Linked DNA regions of Homo sapiens: region 2 is linked to region 1. The links come from fine-mapping of genetic effects on gene expression. Tissue or cell type: whole blood. Region 1 holds a variant in brackets; the other region holds the start of a gene. All regions are shown on one strand. Distances are from middle to middle.

What was found. PIP is the estimated chance that this variant, and not a neighbour inherited with it, causes the effect.
Region 2: it holds the start of G3BP2, and the variant in region 1 is fine-mapped to the expression of G3BP2 in whole blood (INTERVAL, PIP above 0.99).

Annotation. Positions count from the first base shown.
Region 1 is chr4:75,640,761-75,648,853 of GRCh38, reverse strand. It overlaps G3BP2 (G3BP stress granule assembly factor 2), which reads left to right. Exons shown (of 12, transcript NM_203505.3): 9 at 113-215; 10 at 1,697-1,825; 11 at 2,398-2,516; 12 at 3,152-6,068. The coding sequence ends at 3,424. Among named protein-coding and RNA genes, the nearest start is that of CDKL2, 14 kb to the right of the region's middle. The variant C/T (reference allele first, on the strand shown) is at 3,679.
Region 2 is chr4:75,668,827-75,676,919 of GRCh38, reverse strand. It overlaps G3BP2 (G3BP stress granule assembly factor 2), which reads left to right and starts at 3,509. Exons shown (of 12, transcript NM_203505.3): 1 at 3,509-3,712. RefSeq lists enhancers at 719-1,695, 1,696-2,673, 3,410-3,699, 3,980-4,219, 3,652-4,629.

The DNA of each region.
Region 1 (8,093 bases):
TTCTAAACTTAAAACTACTGTTATGTCTGCTAGTGACTTGTCGTTAGGTGCTTTGGTTGGTTTTTCTCCAGTGGAGTGTTTTTTATAATGTTTTTTTTTCTTTATATTTTAGCCAAGAGTCGAAGCTAAACCAGAAGTTCAATCTCAGCCACCTCGTGTGCGTGAACAACGACCTAGAGAACGACCTGGTTTTCCTCCTAGAGGACCAAGACCAGGTGAGTCAGCTCCTTTATAGCCTTTAGCATTTAACATTTGTAAGGCTGTAAAAGACTGAACTTAAACAAAAAACTATGATGCGTTCTATACACAGACCCATATAGTCTCAAATTGCTTAAAGATGTGATGTGAGCAACCTGCTAAATAGTGTCTGGGGCCAAATAACCAATTTTTAGGGAGGATTGGTTGACATGCCATGGTGACATATTTTGAAGGTGTAAAAGACTTAAGTCTTATTTGGTTATTGTCACGGTTTTTTGTTTTTTTTTTTTGTTTGTTTGTTTTTTTTTTGAGACGGAGTCTTGCTCTGTCGCCAGGCTGGAGTACAATGGCGTGATCTCAGCTCACTGCAACCTCTGTCTCCCGGGTTCAAATGATTCCCTTGCCTCAGCCTCCCAAGTAGCTGGGATTACAGGCACACGCCACCAGGCCCAGCTAATTTTCTGTATTTTAGTAGAGACAGGGTTTCACCATGTTGGCCAAGATGGTCTCGATCTGCTGACCTCATGATCTGCCCTACTCGTCCTCCCAAAGTGCTGGGATTACAGGCATGAGCCACTGTGCCCGGCCTAGTCACTGGTTTTAAGAGTTCAAAACCAAGCTGCCAATAACCTACTCTCTTAGCAGTCTTATCTCTTTACAGATAAACAATAAGCCCATTTTGATTCTTAGGTATTAAGTAAGTTGCCATGATTTTTGACTTGTTTACCTTGTTAGCTACACATGTAATACTTTTATTTGAACTCTGTAAGAATGTTTAGATTGCTTTGGGGAGGAGATGGGAGAGATGGAGATAGTATATATCACATTTACAATGTGAATTTTTAAAGTGATATGTTACCAAACTAGAAGTCCTAAATTTGTCAGTGATTAAACTTGGGATCTTGAGTGAAACCCTTAAATTCTGAGCTTCTTTTATGTCAAATATTACACAAATTATTCTTGTATTGCCTATTTTCCTCACTGTGTTCCTTGTGTTATTGGGAGAATCAAATAAGATTTTATGTATATCTATATACATACACACTTAATATGTATAGACTGCATAAATGTGATGATTGCTGTTAAAATTTACTGATTGCTGTAATGTCATAAAGCCAAAGAATTTTGAATTTCAAAAAACTAAGCAAATATTTAGTAAGCTATACCTCACTATCTGAAATCTGCTTGGTTCCTGGGTGATGGCAACAGTTTGGTTAAGGAGGAATACCTGTAGTACTAATATTTGATTTTTGTATAATCCAGTAGATCTAGAAGAAGCTATTTTAGCAACCTAGTCATTGTCCTCACTTTACATTTTAGTGTCATGCTGTTTTCTAACCTACTAGTAATAAGTACTTTTGCCTCTTTTTCAAGAAGCTCACCTAGTCTTATTAAACTAAAACAGGAATATCAATATTAAGTGATTTTTACATTCACTCCTTTGAAGTAGTTTTTATGATATTGTAAACTTTAGTATCTGCTCTATTTCTATTCTCAGGCAGAGGAGATATGGAACAGAATGACTCTGACAACCGTAGAATAATTCGCTATCCAGATAGTCATCAACTTTTTGTTGGTAACTTGCCACATGATATTGATGAAAATGAGCTAAAGGAATTCTTCATGAGTAAGTGATTTATTTTGCTGTTGGAGTTTTTAAATTATTTTAAATTAAGCAAGAGGCATATGGAGCTTTTTTAATAACTATTTTTTTTAAATGTTTCTCTCTTTATACTGTGTCCAGCTACCAGACCCACCTTAATTGTGCAGAAGGGAGTAGATGACTTATCTCACATGTTTCTCAGTGACTGCTTAGTGTTGATTTGGCCTGGCTCAGTAGTGTTTAGAAGAAACAGCTGGATAAATCAGTCATAAATTCAGAGATAAAGGATTCATTTGGCAAATGGGTCAATATATTAGGAGAAAATACATTGTCTTTCCAAAATTATGCAGTTAACTTTACTTATGAAAGGACTACCAAAGATGCAGAAAGGTAACACAGCAGGCGGGCAGGCTACTTGGTATCTTAGGGGATTGCCTGCTTGAGTAAACGTACCTTGGCTATCACTGTGTGTAGAAGCTTGCGAGTTTTATTTTAAAATGGATCGGGGAGATAACGATATTCATCCTGAACAATTAGAGCCATCAAGGTATTCTGTTAAAAATATTTAACCCTTGATGTAATGTATATTTTCACAGGTTTTGGAAACGTTGTGGAACTTCGCATCAATACCAAGGGTGTTGGGGGAAAGCTTCCAAATTTTGGTTTTGTGGTTTTTGATGACTCTGAACCAGTTCAGAGAATCTTAATTGCAAAAGTAAGTGATTTAAAGGGCATAATTCAAGACTTTATTATTTCTGTTGTATATATTAATTTGGGGTATTTAAAAACCATAGAAAATCTTTTAATAATAAAGCTAAAAATAGTTATTAAATGGTATTTATGCAAAGAATAAAGATTTGTTAGTTTGCAGATCATTTTAAATTTTGTTACTTGCTTTGCTGAAGAAGGTGGGAAAGATTGCAAGATTGCATGTTAAGAATTTTGGCTGGGTATAGTGGCTCACACTTGTAATCCCAGCACTTTGGGAAGTTAAGGCAGAAGGATTGCTTGAGCCCAGGAGAGTTCAAGACCAGCCTGGGCAACAGTGAGACATTGTCTCTACAAAAAAAGAAAAATAGCCGGCCATGGTGGTAGACACCTATAATCCCAGCTACTCAGGAGGCTGAGGTGGGAGTATCACTTGAGCCCAGGATGTCAAGGCTGCAGTGAGCCATGCTTGTGCCACTGGCTGTCACCAGCCTGGGTGACAGCTGAGACCCTATCTCTGGGGGGTGGGGGGCTGATAAAAGTGTTTTATTCCTTATGCTTATCTGACTGACCTGTTCAGAGTAATCATTTCTATTGCTGTCTAACCTGCCCATGTAAATATTTTTCTTCTCTTTTATAAAGCCGATTATGTTTCGAGGGGAAGTACGTTTAAATGTGGAAGAGAAAAAAACAAGAGCTGCAAGAGAGCGAGAAACCAGAGGTGGTGGTGATGATCGCAGGGATATTAGGCGCAATGATCGAGGTCCCGGTGGTCCACGTGGAATTGTGGGTGGTGGAATGATGCGTGATCGTGATGGAAGAGGACCTCCTCCAAGGGGTGGCATGGCACAGAAACTTGGCTCTGGAAGAGGAACCGGGCAAATGGAGGGCCGCTTCACAGGACAGCGTCGCTGAAGCTCCACTGTTGGCAAAGTCTTGGCAGTGGTACATTATTCATCGTGTTTGCATTCTTGTTAATTTTTTTTTTGGCTTTGGAATGTGACACAGCCTTTTTGATCATTTCTTTGATGTGAAAAGCATCTTTGGTTATCAGTTAAATTGAGGTGGACATTATTTCCCCAATTTCACAACAGGATTCACATTGTTAATTTATAAATCTAGACTTGGAGAATTAAGGACTGAGAAATGACCATATCTTAAACTATCTA[C/T]GACAAAGTGAACTTAAAAGGACATGCCCACTGAATTCAGGTCCTTTGAGTAAAAAAAAAATCTTCTGCTGCACATTTTGTTTAAGTGTTACTGTTTCTGCCTGTTAATGCTGGGAACACAAATAGTGCAATTTGTGCAATTGGAGAATCTTGCCTTTTTTCTTGGCTCCCCCCAAAAATACAAACCAACAGAAACTTGTTATGCACTCATCAAAATGTACTAATGGGTACTCTGAACTCATTAACATTGACATCTGCAACAGGAGGCAACAGGGAAAAAATCTCATCTTCTTTTCCAGTAGAAAATAGTTTGTGAAATGATGAGGGCATTTTATCTGCTTGCTGTGACCAGCGTGTGTACACATAAACCTTAACAAGACTACAAGTATATTCCAGAAGGAAATCATTTTAGTTATGAACTAAATAATAAAAATTAGAACTTCAAATGCGATGGTCTTGACTATTAGACCAGATTTAGTAGCTCCATATCTAAGATTTTTCTACCTGCCCCTCTTCAGTACAGGGATGGCTGGCTGCTCAACACACTCCTCCTCCCCTTTTTTCCTTTCTTTAAGCTGTGTACAGTGAAAATTGTCTTTACTGTATTTTTGTTCTCTGGTAATGTAATAAGCATGATGGTGCCTTCTATTAATACATCATTCCAGTCTTGCTGGTAATTTTGTACAGTATAGTGTATGAATTGCTGTGCTGCAAAGCCAAACAGCTGCAAAATGTTGAAAAATCATCGAAATGTATAAAAATTGCAGTATCTTTAAAATCAGTAAAATGGACTAGCATATTATTTATCTTGTTCTTCAGTTAACAACTTTGTGTTCTCTGTGGGAGGGAGGGAGTCCTGTGTGTTTGTGGGGAGAGGGAAGGAGGAAGTCAGTTATTTGAGTAAGCCTCTAGTTGACTTTTCTCTTAGCCTGAATGTGGACGTTGAAACATATCACTTCAGGGCTTGGAAAAGTCAGTCAACTTGACGTACATTTTTAGTGACATTTTAAAAGCAGTCAGATTCTATAAATGGCAAGTAAGCCTGAAGTGAGGATACTGCAATTTTCGGAGAAAAGAACAGCAGCTCTTTAAGTGTTTGCATTTTCTATTTGGGGGGCAGGGAACTGTCATTCATTTTGCACAATTCTTGAACTGATGTCAGCACCCGAGTGGCTCCTGAATTTAAGTCTGGGACGACATCTTTTATTTTTACATGAATCTTTAAACAATTCTGTGAGCAAAGTTTGTAGCTGCTGGATTATTGTCTGTCTTTATAGCAAGTTCCAGTAAACCACAAGTATGGCAAAGCTTATCCAATTTTATGCTTGGAGCAGTCAGTACATACCAGTTTCTGATGTTTCAGGCAGGAGTGGGGTAAATAAGTGTGACCACTTAAAGCTGCTCGTTAGCATGGAAGACTTCTCCATTCTATCTTTGTAAAACAGACAAGATATGCACTTGACATAGTAGCAAATTGGTTCTGAATTATGCAACTGTTTGCTATTTAGTAAACTAGCAAATGATGCATGTATTTTGTTTTTCATGTACTGGGCAATATGAGTAAAATCTGTCCCTTTTTCCCCCTTTGAATGAGGTCTTCCATGTTTGAGGGAAAGTCTTGCACTATTGCATATATTTTGGGGACACAGATTTTCATAGTTTCCATTTTTGGGGGGCTTAAGGATTTTTTTTTTTTCTGTTTGAAACAGTTTTATACTTTCTGATATAGTACTTGAAATTCTTACCAGAAAATTACTTTGGAGTTTTGAAGCCTTTATTAATACTACTTTTAAAGAAGCAGTTGTTTTATTGTCAATGTTTTTTTTCCCCCAAGCATATTTTCTTGTATTTCTGTTTCCATATATATATATATATATATAATTTCCAATTCAGGATATTGCCCTGCCATCCATGAAAACTGTTCTGGCACCAAAAGTAATGACAAATGTTAAGTGTAATAATAGAAAAGTAGAGCAAAGAGCCATTCAGCTTCAGTCTTTACATACCATGAATAAAACATTAAAACATCATATGGAGAAGTTTACATGGTGATTGTTCACCTGCAGTACTGTGGAGTTTTAACATTTTGTCCTCTTTTCAGTGAAACAGAGTAAAAATATTCATCTACCATTACTGTTATTTGCTGATTTTGTTTTATTTTTTGATGGTAATATTCTATCCTTATGACACTATTGCAACCAAATTGGCTTTACCATCTTGGCTTTAGTAGGTATAGAAGACAATGGATTACCATCTTTATTGCTGTAATGTGTTAAGCATTATATGCTAGTAGAATCTAGTTTAATTGTTTCAGGTGGAAAGTATTCTTTGAGTTTCCATATTGAATGTGTTTGGACTAAACAAACAATAAACTACTGATGTCTGCAGCATTTATCTATGTCCCTAATTTAATCTATAGTTTTTATTGTTCCCAAATGTTTTCTCCCAGTTGCATTTCATACAAACTAAGTGGGAATAATAAGCAGTTGGGTTTTAAAACAATTTATTTGTGAAATTTGATACGTATAAAAAAAGTAAAACATTTAAGTAACACTTGACCATTGTAAGAGATCTATTCCGTCCAGTTAGACTGCTGGTATACAGGTTGAATGTTAGAATAATAAGTAGTAAGAATGATGAGAATGATCTAAAGCAGATTACAACCTTGGATTTTCTAAAGTATTTTCTGCCTTGCATCTCACAAGAAAGGAGAAGGGAAGGGATGAGAAGATTGAGGTTACCTGAAGTTAATGGACATGACTCAAGTTCAGAAATTGGAACTAATTTATCAAGCTCTCCAAAAATATTGATGTAACCATTAGCCATATTTAGTCATGCTTTCAATGAAAAATGAGGTCCTAAGGCATGTGTAATTTCAGAACTTGAACCTTTTCCTTCCTAAAAGGGGATGATATAGTTGAATTTTACCTGCTATTAATAACACTCTAAGATTTCTAAATCAGTCTTCACAAACTTGTACTGGGGAGAAACCAGAATAACCATTGCTTCATCTTAGGGGGGAAGGAAGACTTAAACCTTTTGTAAACTGACTTCTAATTATAATGTAATTTATCCAACTCTGGCAATGGAAAAACATTTTTTAAAGGGGATAAAATGTATATCTCACACTGTTGAAAATAGGTTCAAATTTAAAAGAGCAAATTATTACTTGGTCCCGGGAATTTATATGAACAACGTATTTGAAAACCTTAGCCACTCAAGAGGTTGAGTTGCTCATCATAACTTATATTTTAGCTACAGATCAATAGAGACCCTTGATTTTTTTTAATTTTGTGTTTATAAGACTTCCTAGTTAGAAGACTGTTTTGATCAGTTTGATGCCAGTGCTCTTTATTTATTTACAATTACTGGATAAACAAGTCACGAAAGAAATTTGTGATTTAAATATGTTCACATAGAAAATAATTTGCAACATTATCAGTTCCTAAATAATGAAGTTTCTGGCAGTTTTTGATAAGGAATAAAATCTTTTAATCTATGTAGTACCTGTACACATTATGTTTCATATGCTTCGGAAATATAAGAAGTTTAGAATTTACGAAATTTTTCAAAAGTCTTTTTAGCATTATCAAATATTGGGCAAAATACTGTAAGTGCAGATTCAGAATTAAGTAATAACAGAAACATTACTAGCTTTCTGTTAATGGCCAAATTAACTGATCTTTGTCTTTGACCTCTAAAGTTTTTTTTTTTTTTTTTTTTTTGAGATGGAGTGTTGCTCTGTCGCCCAGGCTGGAGTGCAGTGGCGCGATCTCAACTCACTGCAACCTCCACCTCCCAGGTTCAAGCAATTCTCCTGCCTCAGCCTCCCAAGTAGCTGGGACTACAGGCGTGTGCCACCACGCCCGGCTAACTTTTTGTACTTTTAGTAGAGACGGTTTCACCATGTTAGCCAGGATGGTCTCGATCTCCTGACGTCATGATCTGCCCCCCACCCCCTCAGCCTCCTAAAGTGCTGGGATTACAGGCATGAGCCACCGCACCCGGCTGACCTCTAAAATTTTGATGAAGCTGGCTGCCTCCTTGAAATGCTTTCACTTTTGTGACATTAATATTATTTTAACTGCTCCTGGTTTTTTTTGTTGTTGTTGAGATGGAGTCTCGCTCTTATTGCCCAGGCTGGAGTACAATGGCTCGATCTTGGCTCACCACAACCTCCGTCTCCCAGGTTCAAGCAATTCTCCTGCCTCAGTTTCCCGAGTGGCTGGGATTACAGGCGCGTGCCACCACGCCCAGCTAATTTTGTATTTTTAGTAGAGACGGGGTTTTCCCATGTTGGCCAGGCTGATCTCGAACTCCCGACCTCACGTGATCCACCTGCCTCGGCCTTCCAAAGTGCTGGGATTACAGGCGTGAGCCACCGCACGCGGCCTCACTGCTCCTGTTTTTCTATT
Region 2 (8,093 bases), 28 kb before region 1:
AGAAAACCAGTGGTAAGAAAAGAAATGGAAGTAATAGGTAAGGACTAGATCAGGTAGGCCTTGTAGGCCATGGTAAGGACCTGAGATTTTGTGTTGCCTTTTAAAGGTTTTGGGACCATCTCAATTATAACTATGAAAGATCTGGCTGCTGTGAGGGGAACAGACTGTAGTGGAATAAGAGTGGAAGCATTGAGGCCAAGTAGAAAGCTATTGCAATAGGCAATGGTGGCCTGGACTACTATAGCAGCAGTAACAGTGATGCAAAGTATTTAATCCAGAATAAATGTTGAAGGTAGAGGGAACAGAAATGTATTGACAATTCGGCGAAGTGGGTGGATCACTTGAGGTCAGGAGTTCGAGATCAACCTGGCCAACATGGTGAAACCTCGTCTCTACTAAAAATAGAAAAATTAGATGGGCGTGGTGGCACATGCCTGTAGTCCTAGCCACTTGGGAGGCCAAGGCAGGAGAATGGCTTGAACCTGGGAGGTGGAGGTTGCAGTCAGCCCAGATCATGCCATTGCACTCCAGCCTGGATGACAGAGCGAGACTCCATCTCAAAAAAAAAAAAAAAAAAAAAAAATTATTGGCAATTGGCTGTCAATAAATTGGTGTGAGAAAAAGAGGTTTTTGGCCTGAGCCACCGAATGAATACCGTTCACACTGGTCTCCCTGCCTAGTCTATAGGAGGTGGACATTGCTTCATGGAGGCTATGTTTGAGAGGCAGGGAGATTAGTTAGGAGGCCACTGCAGTCTTCCTGGGAAGATGAAGGGGCCTGAACCTGGGCAGGGGCTATTTGTGTAGAGATATGTTTATGAGGTAAAAATCGCCAGTTAGAATAGGTTAGAGATATTTACTTAACATTGAAGATCGCTGAATCTTTTTTCCCATTAACTCCACTTATTGGTGTCTACTCAAGAGCAGGGTTACCTGAGGGCTGTTTCTGTGTAGCTCTAGAGCTAAACTAAAAATGTTTCTTAAATTTTTAAAGGATGCGAGAGAGAGAGGAATATGCAACAGAAACCATACGTGGCGCTCAAAACCAAAAATATTTACTATCTAATCCTTCCCTTATCAAACCGTTTGCCCACCTCTGCCCTAGATCAGTGGTGTTTGTTTTTTTTGAGACGGAGTTTTCACTGTTGTCACCCAGGCTGGAGTGCAATAGCGCGATCTCAGCTCACCGCAACCTCCGCCTCCCAGGTTCAAGCGATTCTCCTGCCTCAGCCTCCCGAGTAGCTGGGATTACAGGCATGCGCCACCACGCCCGGCTAATTTTGTATTTTTAGTAGAGACGAGGTTTCTCCATGTTGGTCAGGCTGGTCTCAAACTCCTGACCTCAGGTGATCCGCCCCCCTCGGCCTTCCAAAGTGCTGGGATTACAGTCGTGAGCTGCCGCGCCCGGCCTATATCAGTGGTTTTTAAAGTGTGGCTCCTAGAGCAGCAGTAGCACCATCAGCTGAGAACTTGTTAGAAGTGCAAATTCTCGGGCCTCTGTTGAATCAGAAACTTAGGGAGTGGGGCCCAACTATCTGTTTTAACAAGCCCTACAGGTGATTTCGGTGCACATTAAGGTCTGAGAACCACTGCTCTAGAGAAAGTTCTGCACCTCTGCAGGATACATGGTGAAGAATATTTATAATAGCATTGCACGGAAGAGCTCCAAACCGGAAACACTTGAAGGTTAGTCAGCAGTAGGGCAGATAAGTGAATTGCGGCAATTAGTACAATGGGAGTATTCTATAGTTTGCCTGAGGGTATGGACTGTGGAGGCAGATTGCCTGTGTTTGAATCCCAGCTCCAGTGAATAGTAGCAGTGTAGTCCTGGGTAAGTTACTTGACCTCTCCAAGCCTGTTTTCTCATCTATAAAATGGGCATAAAAATAGCAACTACTGGCCGGGTGCGGTGGCTCACGCCTGTAATCCCAACACTTTAGGAGGCCAAGGCGGGCGGATCACGAGGTCAGGTGTGTTCGAGACCAGCCTGGCCAACATAGTGAAACCTCGTCTCTACTAAAAATATAAAAATTAGTTGGGTGTGGTGGCATGCGCCTGTAGTCCCAGCTACTAGGGAGCCTGAGGCAGGAGAACCGCTTGAACCCGGGAGGCGGAGGTTGCAGTGAGCCAAGACCGTGCCATTGCACTCCAGCCTGGGCGACACAGAGAGACTCCATCTTAAAAAAAAAAAAAAAAAAAAAATATATATATATATATATATATATGTACATACATATAGCAACTAGCTCATAGGGTTACTGTGAGGCTCAGAAGGCTGTATAATTACAAGAATGCCTGGTATATAAGCCCAGTATATTAAAGGACAGCCGGCATGTAATGTATTTTGATGCTTTAAGGAAAAACATCAGGTTGATTTCATTAAAGTGATGGTCTGCCCAAATATTTTGCATATAACAGTATCTTTAAGCAGTCTAAAGGTAAAGATATTGTAGACTTTGGAGGCCCTAATGTTGGCATTGCCTCTGCCAATATTTAAGGTATTTGACGTATTGTCTTAACATGCCAAATACCTTAAAATTGCCCTTACAGGATTGCGAAGAAAACTGATGAGATGTACATGCTTGCGTCCACCATGTTTAGTTCGTAAGCATTCATTAATGTATTTTTTCCTTTCCGTTTCTTTGAACACTTCCTCAGTCCTTCATTCCAAAATTCCTGTGCTATCTCGGTATTCTCTGAAAACACTGCCAGACCTAAGATGCAAAGTGGCTTCCTTGACTACAAGATTTGGCTTGGCTTTGTCCATGAAACAAGGTCACCAGTGTCTCACCCTGGGGGCAAGTCTGGGCTTAGAGCTAGAACAGGACTGTAATCCTTGTATTTCAGGCCTTCTTTTAGCTTTAGTATGTAAAATGCTTTAGTATCTACTGATATTTAGCCATGCCTAAATTCGTAACAAGGACACAAAGAAATAGTCTTTTCCCCCTCTGTAAAGCCCACGTCATGTTCTTCCTTTACTGCAGGGCCTCTTAATGGGGCTTAAAACCTAGGATGGGTTAAGTAAACAATGTAGGTGAGTTTAGTGTGCAAACAGCTGAAATCACCGGCTGCATTTTAAGCTCGTCTACAGCAGCAACCTGCAGACACCTATTCAGAGAGATTACTAAATTCCCTCCTTCCCATTAATAAAAAGGACCAGAATATCAGTCTACAAAAGACACTGCGTTGCTGCGAACCAGCTCTCGCTTGCGCGATCAGGAAGAAGGGCGGCAAGGCTGGAGCCTCGGGACCGGAGAAAGGCAGCCTGCTTGTGACGTCAAATCAGCGGACTCTTATCTTGGCTTTAGGCCGGTTCCGGTTCCCCGGCTTTCCGGGCGCGAGCGTGTGCGAGCGCGGCAGCGTACTGCGCGTGCTCCGCAGAGGGACACGGGAAGGTTGGGTCCGGCTCTGGAGGAGATGCGTGATTGGCTGACGCTGTGCTCGGGGGTTCCCTGGCCCTTTCGGCAGGGGTAAAACAATAAGAGGGGGCGGTGGCAAAGGGGGCGGGACGTCCGTGGTCCTTGTCGCACGTCGCAGCGCCTGGCGCCCGGGAAGAGGTGGTTGTGAGGCAGACGAACTCGCGGCTCTCCGGCTTCCGAGGCTTCCGAGTTGTCGGAGGAAGGGGGCGGCGAGCAATAAGAACCCGCCGCACCCGGTCCTCAGCGACTCTTCTGACCTCCGCGCGACGTACCCGCCGCCGCCGTTGGCTGGAGGTGTGTACGGGCGCCGGGAGGGGAGGTCGGTGTGGTGGTCGGAAAGGGACATTCCATTCGCGCTCCGCGGCGCGAGGCAATCGTCCGGTGTGTGAGCCCGGGAGCCGGAGGTGTAGCGGCAGAGACATTGTTCTTGCCGGCTCCCTACGGTGCCGTGTGTGCGTGAGAGAAGACCAGTCTTTCCTCTAGGTGAGGGGTGGGAGGCCGCCTGGGAAGGGAGGTGACCCGCGAGCGTCTTGCGGGCAGAGGGCTCCGAGTGCACAGGTGGGGTTGAGGTTTATTGGGGATGAGGTGGCGAAGTGGGGGGGGAGGCACGCAGCAGCTCCCGAAGGCGCGCTGATGGAAGCTTAATACAGGAAGTGTGGGAGCAGGCTTTCTGGAGGGGATGTTTTAGGGTGGGTAGCCCACCGTTCCTGTTTCCGAATCGTTTTCGGCTCTTGTACCTTGTTCCTTCGGAGCGGAGAGGCCGTCGCCACCCCGCCCGTGGGGGGAGGGGAAAAGAGGTTGTGTCGACGGAGGCAGAAGCGACGCAGATGCGAAAGTGGCGGCCTCCGGGCACCATTTCTGTGCACGGAAACAGAATCCGGGTTTGAAGGCAGCCGCCGCTTCGCTTACCCAGTACCTAGTGTTCCGTCGTGTTTGACCAACCCCCCTCTCCCTGCCACCGCGGGTTTAATCCGAACGTGTTCGGATACTGGAACTGTAACGTGCGCCTTCTTCGTCCCCCTCTTATGCAGACGATCCCTTATTGACTCGGGAATGGCTTTTGGGGGATGGGTTCCCGCTTTTGTTGGGATGGGGGGACAGAAAGGAACAGAAGCTTCCCTAGATTGTGTTGATTTTGTTAGTGGAATCTGATAGAATTTTTCCTGCGTCTCTAAAAGCAGATTTCTTAAGATGGCCCTTTGCCGCTTTGGGGCGAATATAGATTTTCGTCTATAATTTCCTGCATAGATCAGCTTTTTTCCCCAAGACATACTTAATGTTCTAACGGATTTGGGGGGTGGGAGGAGAGTGCCTTTTCCTTCATAACAACAACAAAAAAAAGGCACTTGCACTTTTAGCTGGAATAGTAAAGTCCTGTTCTCCCTGTATGATTGTTGTGGGATATTAACTTGGATTAAGATACTGTGGTTTTAGGTTCAAGGCTCTGTACCTTGTTCTGGTCTTTCAAACGTTAGTGTTGCAGGTACCTGGATCTAGGAAACATTAACTGTCGTTAAGAGAGCCCCGGTGTACTAGAGTGGGAGATGATGGCAATTTTTCTCTAGCTCCATATTTGGCAGTTAATATAGCCTTAGGCATGTGAACCAAGTTTCTAAGTAAACTTTTGGCCCTGTTAGCATCCAGTGGTCTTTTTGATAATCCAAGATTCCTGGTCTTAGGAGATAAACGGTACGATGAGTTTGAACCTCAGGATTGAATTATCCTTTCTTTGGCAGTAACATTTTTCTTAAATGTTTAAGATTACTCTTATGGGCCTTTATGTTATGATTTAATCTTTACAAACTAATTCTGAAAAGCAGTCAAGGAATTGTAGGAATAATAAGGACCTAGAATGAATTTCTTACTAAGAGCTGTCATAGTTCAGATTGATATTCAGGGTCGAAATATTAGTAATAGTGAAAAAACATCAAGAGTGAACCAGAATGCTTGTGGGATGGATGGGGATAAAAATTAGAAGGTAAAGAAGAAAACACATTATTTGACCATTTCGTAGAGTAACTAACTTAACTGTTCAGTTAGCAGCTGAGCAGTTGATTTGTCAGCAGGCAACTCCTGGTTTGAAGAAAGTGTTGGCACTGTGTCTTTAGATTCTGAAAACTTCCCTCCTTATCCTGCAAAATTATCGCTGTTTATTACGCATAATTAGGATTGAACATTTTCCCCCTAGATTGCTTTAAAAAGACTTTCCACATATTTTGAGTGAATATGGAGACAGTGAATGACTCCTTTTCAATGTTGATTTTGAAAGGCACAAACTAAAGTGTTGCGTCTGAACTTAAATTCAGTAGAATTTAATGGACAAACATGACCTAGTTACTCTCCACTGGTAGACACTTGTTTTATATCCGATAGAATAAATTGGTCCACCCACCTTCAGGAAGGTCCTGGCCTACCTTCAGAAGCAATAGAATTAGTTTCTTGACTGTCGTGTTTCTGCTTACTTTTATCTGCTAATTTCCAAGTATTTTACCCTATCTTGAAACCATAGGTATATTGAAAATTATTCTTGGATTTTCTGTTGCTGTCCTGCTGTATTCCTTTGCTTTTCACTCTTCTCAACAGTTTCACATAAGCTAACAATTGCTTGTTTAAAATTAATTTTTTGTATTGTTGGAAGAGCTGGCTGCTCTTCCAAAGCGGTTGTTCCTAACCAAAGTGTAATGAAAACATCAGTTGAGTCAGGAGTCAGGAGACCTGATTTCAAATCCTCTTTCTTTTTACTGTAACTGAGGAACCCCAAACACCTTTCCTTAGGCTCTCTAAACATCCTTTTCTGTAAATGAAGATAATGCCCTATCTATTTTAAAGACAAAAGAAAATAGTAGGTTACTTGTTAAACTTTAAAACATAGTATAAATACATGCTTTATTTTTGTGGACAGCAAGCATTTCCATTTCTTACTGCTTGGTCACTTTTAATAGCTTCTGAATTTTAAAACTAGCCTCCCTCAACTTCTGAGAAGGACAGAAAACAAAAACACCTTTTGGAGCCTGAATAAGAGATTTAATCCATAACTTACTTTTATTATTTATTTGTACCACTATGATTCTTAGATCTTCTTTGTGAAGCTTTCATTCAATGGTGTACCACAAAAGATTGAAGGTCATTTCTTTAAAAAGGTATAGTGTTCCTTAGATTGTTTAAGTTACTTCAAACAAAAACCATCTGGAATTTCAGAAAGTTCCAGTATTAATATGCATTTAGCTGTTGGAAATGGATATAGTCCATGGTTCAATTAAAATAAATAAACCTGACTAGTTTGAGCCCAGCTATGAGTGAGGGACTCCAGAGGGGAAAGGGGTAAGTATCCTATAGTGGAGATAAGCTGTGTCTTAGCACCCACATAACCTTTGGTAACAGTATCTGGTAAAGAGAACTGCCTCCTATTACTAGAGGTCTTATTCTTTTTATAATAACTAATACCAAGTACTTACAACTCAGCTCACTGCAACCTCCGCCCCCGGGTTCAAGCGATTCTCCTGCTTCAGCCTCCTGAGTAGCTGGGATTACAGGCGCCCGCCACTGCACACGGCTAACTTTTTTGTGTTTTTAGTAGAGATGGGTTTTGCCATGTTGGTCAGGCTGGTCTCGAACTCCTGACCTCAGGTGATCCACCCATCTCGGCCTCCCGAAGTGCTAGAATTACAGGCGTGAGCCACTGCACCCGGCCTCTTTTTCCTTTTGTAGTTTCTGGTACATACATAGTAGCCATAAAATAAATGTTGAAATGAATTTATTTTGTATAACCCATTGACTCAGCTTGTGGATGGGAATGAATGAAGTAAGACAAAGGCGCAGAGAGTGAAATTGCAGAGAATAATATTAGGTGATTAAAATATTTGTATAGAATTTGATACAGGGATGAGAAAGTATAGTAGGAGATAAATTTGAAAGGTTGGTTATGACATTGAATGTCAGACTGGATTTCTGTGTAGGGCCTTAGATGCCAAACTGAATGCAGGTGTTTGGATTTTACTCAGTACAGTATATACTACACGTGATACAGGGGCTTGAAAGACTTTTGAAGAATAAAAGGTCTGAACAGTGGGAGTGAAAAGGAGGGCACAAATTCCACCTTCTGAATTGTAAGGATTTCACAGTTTAAGTGGCAAAGCTAAAGGGGAGAAAGTCACGACTGAGCTTTCAAGTTGAGAAGATTATGACACTTTTAACAGAAATAAGGAAATAGCTTTCTTTGGTGCATGCGTGTATTGGGACATATGTGGGTCATGTCTAGGTGTTCAGTATGTGGTGACAAATGTAAAATTTGAACTTATGGTATAGACTAGATACACGTTTAGGTAGACATGAGACCAGAAGCTGAAATTGCCAGGTTAGAAGACAGAACCTTGAGAAATTCTGCGTTTGGATGAGAAGGAAAATTTGCCTTATAGAACTCTAGAAGAGTTAGGAGGAGGTAGTCAACATTGATAATGCAGATGGGTGGAGGATTGAGAAGTCATTCGATTATTGAGAAGAATTGTGATGTTTCCAGAGAATTGCATTCAAAGGAGAGCTGAGTTATAATATTTGAGAGGGGAATAGAAGATGAAGACAGGTGTACAGTTAGTAATTTAGGGCAGAGCATGATCAATAAACTGCTATGATAAAGGCCAAAAGTGCTTTAAGAGTTAATAGAGAAGAGTTATATTCT